3 linked regions of the Homo sapiens genome follow. The protein of the gene in region 1 interacts with the protein of each later gene in a biochemical or structural test. Each region holds a gene or a part of one and is shown in the gene's direction. Other genes may lie near its edges. The genes, in order: EFNB2, LIMK2 and DLG1.

The links.
Region 2: the proteins of EFNB2 (region 1) and LIMK2 interact in a test that uses a peptide from one of them, tested with the Homo sapiens proteins (one large-scale study listed by IntAct).
Region 3: the proteins of EFNB2 (region 1) and DLG1 interact in a test that uses a peptide from one of them, tested with the Homo sapiens proteins (one large-scale study listed by IntAct).

The regions. Positions count from the first base shown.
Region 1 is NC_000013.11:106,511,571-106,515,224, reverse strand, and holds part of EFNB2 (ephrin-B2 isoform 1 precursor), read left to right. Parts: intron 1-2,412; coding exon 2,413-2,696; intron 2,697-3,654. UniProt on the Homo sapiens protein: Cell surface transmembrane ligand for Eph receptors, a family of receptor tyrosine kinases which are crucial for migration, repulsion and adhesion during neuronal, vascular and epithelial development.
Region 2 is NC_000022.11:31,260,751-31,264,404, forward strand, and holds part of LIMK2 (LIM domain kinase 2), read left to right. Parts: intron 1-1,383; coding exon 1,384-1,489; intron 1,490-1,844; coding exon 1,845-2,041; intron 2,042-3,654. UniProt on the Homo sapiens protein: Serine/threonine-protein kinase that plays an essential role in the regulation of actin filament dynamics. Acts downstream of several Rho family GTPase signal transduction pathways.
Region 3 is NC_000003.12:197,288,554-197,292,207, reverse strand, and holds part of DLG1 (disks large homolog 1), read left to right. Parts: intron 1-3,654. UniProt on the Homo sapiens protein: Essential multidomain scaffolding protein required for normal development. Recruits channels, receptors and signaling molecules to discrete plasma membrane domains in polarized cells.

The DNA.
Region 1 (3,654 bases):
GGCCTCAAACACAGAGATCCCCAAAGCCACACCGACCCCTGCGTCCCATGTTCTCGACCTCACCGCATCAGCACCAGCAAGACCTGTCGCTGAGACGGTGAGTGATGAGAGTCAAGAGGAGTGACTTGCATGGCCTGGGAGGAAACCTCCTGTGAATCTTTAGTTAAGCAGGAAAAAAAAAATCCTCATGAAGGAAACAGGATCTTGGGAGCATTTTGAATGAAGAAGGAGCTTAGTGAGCCAAACTTGAGACATAGGGTGTAATGTGGGAGAGTTTTAAGATTTGCAGAGATGTACAGCTTGGGAGGGGGTGTAATGCATTTTCTTAAAAGAGCTGAATGAATGGTTGAGGAAATGGGTACATCTGGTTTGGTTAAGGATCCTAATCTCTGAAGCCTGGGATGCCCCCAGGGCTTGTAATTTAGGAATACTTCCCCTAATAGTAGCTAACCCTTATATAGTGCTGTCTGTGCAGGCTACAAAAGGAGCAGATTAAGGATAGAAAAGGTTTGGAGTGTATGAGAAACCCTAGGCAGGAATTGACTCCTGGTGTTTGTAAACCTTAAAGATGTCCTAAAAAGGTCAAGGAATAAGACAGGAGAAAAAGGAAATGTCAGGAAGATGATCAATTTAATGTTTATGGAATTTAGTTTGTACTTACTGCCCGGCATCTTGCCTGAGGTTTTTAACCTCAGCAGCACATCAGAATTACTGTGTGTGTGTTGGAGGGGCTGGGGGAGATAAAGAAATTAGCCTCATCCCAAACATTCTGATTCAGTCTGTTACTTGAGAAACTGAATTGTGTTTTGTCCATAAAGAAGATGAAATTGTCTACAGAGAACACATTGCCATTCACAAGGTTGAGGGGATACCACAGAGAGGCTCCCACTGTGATTTGCATTTGTCAAAAGTTCTAGAGAATTCTTCAACAGTACACACATGGTTGTTTTAAATATATCATTGTTATAAAAATTCGTTTTGAGTTCTGTTTCACAGAAAGTTTTTTTGAATGAATGAATGTCATATATCCTTGCTAAAGGAGCTCAGTTAAAAAAAAAGGGACCATCCTTCTCTTTTGGGGGTTGTACAGTAACACATTCCCAAGAAAGAGGTAACAGCCACATACATTTTTCTTCCCAATAAAGAGTGTGGGTTTTTAATATGAATCCATAGTATGATTTCTGTTATGTTTTGTGCTGCTTCATAACCACACTCATGCACTTTTCAGAAAATTAATACCATTCATTAGCATAAATCATAAACTATTCCCTTGGTATGGGTTTGAAATTGGGGGTGCCCTATCATCCTTGCTTTATCTCTTAGTGAATTATGACCCTGTAGTCATCATGGCTGGTGGGCGTCTCTGGTTAAAGAAAGGGTTGGATTGGAAGGATTCAGAGGCGATTCTTTGTTCTTAGGCTTTAATATTTTAATGAGCCTGCAGGCTTGGCTGCTTACGAACGAGCTGAGATTTCTAAGTGTGTTGTTAGTGTTAGCACTTGTAGAAGGATGTTCATTAGGAAGTTCTTGTTTCAGTTTTTCAGAGAAACTCCCCATTAAGAAAGATCATTCAGGAACATGGCTACCAAGAAAGAGGAAAGGGAGGAGGGAGGCTTTCAGCTATAAGCATTAAGGGGATATTGTATCAGTAGTCTTAGTTCTAAAGATTTGCTTCTGAGAATTAATTGGAGCAAATACATCTCAAGGGAAGAAAAAAAAAGATTTATAGGGCAGGGACAGTAGTTGTCCTTGCAAGTAGAGGACACTTCATTTTGCAGCTGAATCAATACCACAACTAATTATTTCTGGTTATCTTTTACGCATTTGTAAGACATTGCTTTTGTTCAGTGTAATAAAAAACCCATTGTTTGATCAGTGACTGACTAATTATGATAAGTAATTTGAAACATTCTTGATGAAACTTGTCTGTTAATTAACATCAACAGCACAGGGAAACTAACAGGACAACAAAGTATTAGTGGATCCACTGTTCCCTCCAATTGACGAGCTTTCTCTGTGGCATGCCCAATAAACTAAAGCTGCCAATGGTTAAAAAATAACAAACATGTGGGAGATCTGACTCACCACGGAGGAAGAGTTATGGTAAAGTTACACAAAGGAGTACTGAAATATTACAAGCGAGGGGGTGGTAAAGAAATGTCAGCAGGTAGCCTGATCCTACAGCTTAGAGTAAGGAAAGTGGTTTCTTTCTGTCTTTCCTTTTTCTTTTAAAGCTTAATTCCAAAATACATTCATCCCATATTGATCTGAAGTAAGAGACTTTTGATAAATTAAAGTGTGAATCTGAAAATGTGTAGTTTGGGATTATGGGCATTGCCTGGCTATCTTGTAACTGTCATTAATACTGTTAATTTTTATCAACTCAATGGCTTTTTTTTCTTATGCTTTTAGATTTCTACCTGGACAAGGACTGGTACTATACCCACAGATAGGAGACAAATTGGATATTATTTGCCCCAAAGTGGACTCTAAAACTGTTGGCCAGTATGAATATTATAAAGTTTATATGGTTGATAAAGACCAAGCAGACAGATGCACTATTAAGAAGGAAAATACCCCTCTCCTCAACTGTGCCAAACCAGACCAAGATATCAAATTCACCATCAAGTTTCAAGAATTCAGCCCTAACCTCTGGGGTCTAGAATTTCAGAAGAACAAAGATTATTACATTATATGTAAGTATAATTTTATTCATTTATTTTATAGAAATTAAGATAAGCTATATAGGTTTGTATCAATTTTTTGTTTCCTTAAAATTATTGTGACAAATAATTTGATGAAAATCTATGTGGAAAAATTGTCCCCCCCCCCTTTTTTTTTTTCAAAGAAAACTTCATTGAATTTGGGACCCTGTGCTACCAGTATTCATTAAGTATACATACCCAAAGAGAAAAAAAAACACTAGAATTCTTAATAGTATTGAAATAAATGTATTATATGAATATATTCAGCATCTCTACTGACAAAACCATTTTTAAGGACCATTGGTGGATTTTGATAGGTAAATCTTGTGCATTGCCTTTTCTCTTCACCCATCCATCCATTCATTCACTCATTCATTTCGTATTTATTCTGTGCCAGAGACTGTGCTTAAGGGCTAGGGATTCAGCAGTGAAAGGTGGTAAAATAGCATGTTTTCCTCAAGAAGTTAACAGTCTAGAGAAGATGGAGCTCATAAATTCGAAAGATGGGGATGACAGGTCACATTAAAACCAGATTCAGAAGAAAAAGACGAAACTTGGTTTGCTTAGTACATTACTCTTTTTTGCATACATATATATAATTTGACACGCTGTTTCAAGAAGAGATGGTACGTATCCCTTGGGTCATATCTGAGGCTGACTTGTGAGGATGTGAAGTCAGCTGATGAGCACATTTGGAGCCCACGCCTACTATGTGCAGATCTCTCGTCAGCGTCATTCCCAGGGCCCCAGGTGGTGTTAAAGTCTAGGTGACTCAGACAGCTGTTCGCGTCATTCAAGCAATGAAGTCTTTTTTCTTAATTTCTTTGGTTTAAAATTATACTCATAATTAATTGGGTTGAATTTTCCAGTGGCTTGGTTACCATAGACTTCAGTTTATTAGGGAACTGCTATCTGCCACTGGTTTATTATTTGCCCCAAGGTGGACTCT
Region 2 (3,654 bases), on another chromosome or scaffold:
AACCTTATTAGATGAAGAGGAGAGGGAATTGTGTTCAGGGCAGAGGGAGAAGCATTTCTCCAAAAGTAGGAGTCTTAATCATGTCTGATGTAGGTTGAGTGTGGCCAGAAAAGGGGCTGTTAAGTATAGAGGGCCTGGATTATGAAAATCCAGCAGATCCATTGAGAGTTTAAGCAGCAAGGTGTTGTGACCAAGTTAACATTTTAGAAGGATCACTGGTATGGAGGTTGGATTGGAGAGGGGAAAGCCTAAAGGTATAGAGACTAGTTAGGAAGCTATTGTAGGCTGGGCATGGTGGTTCATGCCTGTAATCTCAGCACTTTGGGAGGCTGAGGTGGGAGGATTGCTTGAGGCCAGGAGTTGAAGACCAACCTGGCCAACATAGCAAGACCCCGTCTCTGTTTTTCTTAATTAAAAGAAAAGTCCAGACGTAGACATAGTGGCTCACGCCTGTAATGCCAGCACTTTGGGAGGCCAAGGTGGGCAGATTGCTTGAGGTCAAGAGTTTGGGATTAGGCCAGGCGCAGTGGCTCACGCCTGTAATCCCAGCACTTTGGGAGGCCGAGGTGGGCGGATCACAAGGTCAGGAGATCAAGACCATCCTGGCTAACACAATGAAACCCCGTCTCTACTAAAAGTACAAAAATTAGCCGGGCATGGTGGCGGACGCCTGTAGTCCCAGCTACTCGGGAGGCTGAGGCAGGAGAATGGCATGAACCTAGGAGGCGGAGCTTGCTGTGAGCAGAGATCACGCCACTGCACTCCAGCCTGAGCGACAGAGCGAGACTCCATCTCAAAAAAAAAAAAGAGTTTGGGATTAGCCTGGCCAACATGGCAAAACCCCATCTCTACAAAAAGTACAAAAAAATTAGCTGGGTATGGTGGTGCGCGCCTGTAATCCCAGTTACTCAGGAGGCTGAGGCATGAGAATTGCTTGAGCCTGGGAGGTGGAGGTTGCAGTGAGCCCAGATCATGCCACTGCACTCCAGCCTGGATGACAGAGTAAGATGCCATCTCAAATAAAAATTAAAAACAAAGTTTAAAAAAAAAATAGAAGCTATTACCGTGATCCAGGTAAGAGATGTGAATAACTACAATGATGGAAAGAAGGCAGAGTTCTTAGAGATGGGAGTAGGAGAGATGAGGGAACTCCAGATTGGGAAGATGATGTTCAAGTTTCTGGCTTAGGCCACAGGGTGAGTGGCAATTCCCTTCACTGAGATGGGGCATCCTGGAAAAGGTGTTGCCTTTCTGTGTGGGTATCCTGGGCCCCTTAGGGGCCACTGGTGGCCTGGGACCTGGTAAACCTTCCCTGCACAAGCAGAATTGGTCAAGCAGGTTTTTAGGACATCTTTACCCTGCCTCAACTCTTGTCTGGCCCAGGGTCAACCGGATGCACATCAGTCCCAACAATCGAAACGCCATCCACCCTGGGGACCGCATCCTGGAGATCAATGGGACCCCCGTCCGCACACTTCGAGTGGAGGAGGTAGAGTGTGTGTCTAATCTGTCTTGTGAGGGTGGGACATGGAACAGATCCTCTGAGAAATCAGGCTGTAGCCTTTACCTTTTCCTACCCCCAGCCCATCTCTTTGTCTTAGCATTGAGCCTGTGACCACTGGTGACCTATTTCAGCGTAACAGGTTCCCAGGGTAGCAGGGATGGTTGATGGACGGGAGAGCTGACAGGATGCCAGGCAGAGGGCACTGTGAGGCCACTGGCAGCTAAAGGCCACCATTAGACAAGTTGAGCACTGGCCACACTGTGCCTGAGTCATCTGGGTTGGCCATGGGTGGCCTGGGATGGGGCAGCCTGTGGGAGCTTTATACTGCTCTTGGCCACAGGTGGAGGATGCAATTAGCCAGACGAGCCAGACACTTCAGCTGTTGATTGAACATGACCCCGTCTCCCAACGCCTGGACCAGCTGCGGCTGGAGGCCCGGCTCGCTCCTCACATGCAGAATGCCGGACACCCCCACGCCCTCAGCACCCTGGACACCAAGGAGAATCTGGAGGGGACACTGAGGAGACGTTCCCTAAGGTGCCACCTCCCACCCTGGCTCTGTTCTGTCCTATGTCTGTCTCTCGGATGAAGCTGAGCTGGCTTTCAGAAGCCTGCAGAGTTAGGAAAGGAACCAGCTGGCCAGGGACAGACTATGAGGATTGTGCTGACCCAGCTGCCCCTGTGGGGATCACAGTTTACAGCCAGAGCCTGTGCGGACCCAGCTGTCTGCCAGGTTTCCTTAGAAACCTGAGAGTCAGTCTCTGTCCACTGAACTCCTAAGCTGGACAGGAGGCAGTGATGCTAAACCCTGAAGGGCAACATGGCCTATGGAGAAAGCATGGAGCTCAGAGCCTGGAGTAGGGGCACAGATAGGATTGAATAAATTGTGTAGAAAGACTTTGAAAACAATAAAGCAAAAGATGAATGAACGTTTTTTTTAGACTTGAGGGACCAACAACCCCCAAACCCCAGATTCTGCCAGGTCCATGGGGAAGGAGAAGTTGCCTTGAGTGGAAGCCCCAAGTAGGGAGACTTACAGAAAAGAAGTCAAGAGCACTGGCTCCCAGGCAGAAATACTGATACCCTACTGGGGCTTCAGGCTGAGCTCCTCCCTTCACAAATCACTTCATCTCTCTGAGCCTGTTTCTGCATCTGTGACATAAGATGGTAAGATAAAGGTGGCTGTCTCACCAATTATGTAAGGATTAAATGTGGAAAAGGACATAAAGTTGTATAGTGCTGCCATAGGGACAGTGTTCAGTAAACGTGACACATTCTTAGTATCACTAAGAATCAGGTTCTTGGCCAGGCACCGTGGCTCATGCCTGTAATCCCAACACTCTGGGAGGCCTAGGTCGGAGGATGGCTTGAACACAGGAGTTTGAGACCAGCCTGAGCAACATAGTGAGACACTGTCTCTACAAAAAAAAAATAATAATAATAATTGTTTTTAATTAGATGGGCAGGGCACTGTGGCTCACACCTGTAATCCCAGCACTTTGGGAGGCCAAGGCCGGAGGATTGCTTGAGGCCAGGAGTTCAGGAGCAGCCTGGGCCACATTCCTGTCTCTACAAAGAATAAAAAACTTAACTGGGCATGGTGGCACATGCCTGTAATCCCAGCTACTCAAGAGGCTGAGGAGGAGGATTGCCTGAGCCCAGGAGTTCAAGACTGCAGTGAGCCTTGATCACACCACTGTACTACAGCTTGGGCAACAGAGTGAGACCTTGTCTCCAAAAAAAAAAGTTTGTTTTTTTTTATCCACTCTCCTCACCAAACAAACTGAGTAAGTTAGAGCCCTCTCAGCTGGCATGTGTTGGAAACAGTGCCCTCTCATTAAAGTGCTGCCCTCACTCCCATTGCCTCTTGGCCTTGGTCAGTATGATGAAATTAGTGGGAGGCAGGGCAACAGAGGGCAGGGAAGAGCTAGAAATCCATGGCCTGGAAAAGGGAAGATTTGGGAGTGGCCAGGTATCTGTAGAGCCACCATGCAGAGGAGGGGGGCAGCTAGCCTTGTGTGCTCTGGTGGGCATGGTCAGCAGGAGGCAGAGCAAAAGGACAAGGGTAAGTAAACCTGTAGGTCGGGACAAGCCAAGAGCCATCCAGCGTCAGTCCTCTCTGGGTAGCCCAAGTAAAGCAGGAGCATACC
Region 3 (3,654 bases), on another chromosome or scaffold:
CTCCTCCTGGCTGTTGTGAATAATGCTGTTAGGAATGTGAGTGTGCAAATATTTCTTCAAGACCCTGCTTTCAGTTCTTTTGGATATTTACCCAGAAATAGGATTGTGGGATCATACGGCAGTTACATTTTTAATTTTTTGAGGGCCCACCATAATGTTTTCCATAGTGATTGCAGCATTTTACAGTCTCACCAGCAGCACACAGGATTTCCAGTTTCTCCACATCCTTGCCGATACTTAATTTTTTTCCTTTCTTTTTTTGATAATAGCCATCCTAATAAGTGTGAGTATATGACTCCTCTTCAAGTGTATGTAAAACATAATAACCAACATTTATTGAGCACTTTCTATGTGCTAATACAAATATATCATTTAGTCATTGTAATCCTGTGAGGTGTACATTCACCTGTATGAGGTGTTTGTACTGTTTTATAGACTGGAAAACTGAAGCACTGAGAAATGACCAATCTTGCCCTTGGACCCTCAGATGCTAAATTGCGGAGCCAGAAATTGAACTCAACTAATCTGAATCCATAGATACTTCTCACCGTCAACCATTGGGATATTCTTTATCGTTGTTTTTCAGAACTGAGTATTTTAATCTGATAAAGAATACTAAATGACAAGCATGCTTAAGACAGATAGCAATCTTTAGGGTTAGTAATCTTTAAATGATTGTCACTTTGAAGGAAAATATTTATAATGGTGCATTATGTTTATGATGATGGAAATCACACATTTTGAAAACAGTGTTTAGTAATCAGGGTTTGAGATCTTCCAGCTATAGTGGTAAAATGTCAAAATTTCTTAAATTTCTTTTGCATTATATTAGTCCCACTGATGTTACATTTTAGTCTCTTGCTAACTGTGTGTGTGTGTGTGTGTGTGTGTGTGTGTGTGTGTGTGTAACTTTGTAGGCTAGATTTGAGTAAGGAAAACAGGATATGGATCACATCGTTGGCTGAAACTTCCTGAAATGGAGAATTTTAGTAACTTCTCACTTGATGGTTTTGATTCAATTAGATTGAGTTCTTTGCTCATAGTTTGCTTACTACTGCTCTGAAGCAGTGTTTTGATTATGTTGAATCTGGCTGAATTCTCTTTAGAACCTTGGAATCAGAGTTGTAAAGGCATCTAAATATTTCTTCTAAGCCATTTCCTCTCTGCAGGGTCATATTTTTCCTCAGTGCAGAATCCAGACTTGGACCAGATATTACCGTTAGTTGTCACGTCTCTTTACTTAGGGCACATTTCCACAGCTTTTCTTTGTCTTGTGTGAGACTGACTTTTTTTTTTTTTTTTTTTTTTTTACTATTTGGAGACAGGGTCTTGCTCTGCCACCCAGGCTGGAGTGCAGTGGTGGCTTACTGCAACCTCTGCTTCCCAGGCTCAAGCAATCCTCCTGCCTCAGGCTCCTGAGTAGCTGGGACTACAGGTGTGAGCCCCCACGCCTGGCTAACTTTTTCTAGAGACAGGTGTTGCCCAGGCTGGTCTCGAACTCCTGAGCAAAGTTCTGGGATTACAGGTGTGAGCCACTGCGCCCAGCTGAGATTGATGATTTTGAAAAACGCAGTTCCTTCCACTCTTACTTTTTTTTAATATAATTTTCTCATTTTGGGTTTGTCTGATGTTTCCTTGTGATTAGATTCAGGTTTTGTATTCCTGGCTTAGGATTCTGTACATCCAGAGGTACACAGAGTCATCTGCTCTTTGTTGATGATACTGATTTTGATTACCTAGTTGGGTGTTGTCTGAATTCTGTATCCTATAGTCATTGTTTTTTACCCCTTGTGGCTTATAGGCAATATGTGGGGGAGACACTTTAACACCATGTACATATCCTACTCCTTAGCAAAATTTCCACCCATATTTAGCATCCATTGATGATTCTTGAACCGGTTTATAATATGGTTGTTGAAAAGTAAGATTTCTAACAGTAACACTCCTAGGTTTACCAGTTAACACTTTGCATTTTATTCTAAACAAGAGCCTTCCTTCTTTTTTTCCCGTGTCTTTCATGAACTTGCAGATACCTGTTTTTTTTTCAATGACTTATCATTTATTACCATCCTTAATGACATTTGTGCTCTGAGTGATCCAGTGGGGGCCCTTTCAAGCTTGTGTCCTTATGAGATGCCCTCATCATTTTTTGGAGCACTTTCTTAATTTTTGGCATAACAAGATGTTCCAGGTTTATCTTGTACCTCTCCTGCCCCAGCCCTGGAATCAGCCATTTCTCTGAGAAGCTCTGGTTCCTTTTAGTACACACCTTGTTTTATGGAATATGCTTGTGAGTCATGTATGATTCTTAGTCTAATAGTATCTAAAGTATTCAAGTGATTTATTTTTGCCTACTAGCTTGACATCTTTCCTTTCTTTAGTGTGTGAAACAATAGTACAAACTTTTAAATTTTATAGGATATTCTTTCTTCTAGGGGTCAAAAATGACTTTTTAAATGAACATTGGTTTAGAAGAAAGAGTATTTGTGCTTGAGTAGATTTGACTATTGTGGTATTATCTTAGTATGTCATCTGCCCTTCACTGATGATGTTAATTTTGATTACTCAATTGGGTATTGTCTGAATAATCATACTTGCTTTTAGTAAATGAACTGATAGAATTTTTTTCCTCTGAAATGGTAGGGTTATATTTCAGTGTTCTTCAGCTTTCTAGTTGCCTTTCCTGTAACCCTCCAAAATAAATTTATTATAAAAATGATGCATGTTCTATATAAAACATTTGAGATCAGATTATTATATGTAAAATACCATAAGAAAATATTCACACCAGAGGTTACCTCCTACTTCATCCATGGGATGAATATCCTGGAATGTTATTTGTGTGTGTGTGTGTGTGTGTGTGTGTATGCGCGTGTATACACGCCACCCCCCACCTTCATTTTGCAAAACAAACTTCTAAGTAAAACAGTTATTTCCCTTGTGAGAATTGATACTTAAAATCAGCATGTAAGGTGAAAAACCTCATCTAGTTAAAATTATCCCTGAAAAGCCTTCAGAAATTTAACACTAGCTCTTGTTAATTACAGCACAATTGTTTTTTTTCCTCTAGTGGAAAGGAATGATTTCTTCACTTGAGCCCTAGACGAAGCAACTGGCTTGTTTGACTTCTTGTACTAAAAACACGTAATTATAGAATCACACTCAGCACAGTGAGATATAGCAAGAAGCTCACATTTTGAGAGGCACATGAAAACTCAGACTACCTAAAGGAAGAATCTTCTTCCTTCTCATTTTTTTATTTGTGACAGTCACTTATTGGGTAGACAGAGTTGCCCTTTTTTGCAGGGGAGATATACTGCAGTTGTATTTGTATAAGTGTGAATAGTATGATTTCTCTGTACTATACATATTGTTTTTATCTTCTAAAGTTTATCGACAAATGTCTTTCCATGTCAGTAGATTTCTACCATTTTATGTATGTATGTATGTATGTATGTATGTATTTTTTTTTTTTTTTTTTTTTTTTTGAGACAGTTTCACTCTTGTTGCCCAGGCTGGAGTGCAATGGCTTGATCTCAGCTCACCACAACCTCCGCCTCCTAGGTTCAAGCGATTCTCCTGCCTCAGCCTCCTGAATAGCTGGGATTACAGGCATGTGCCACCACGCCTGGCTAATTTTGTATTTTTAATACA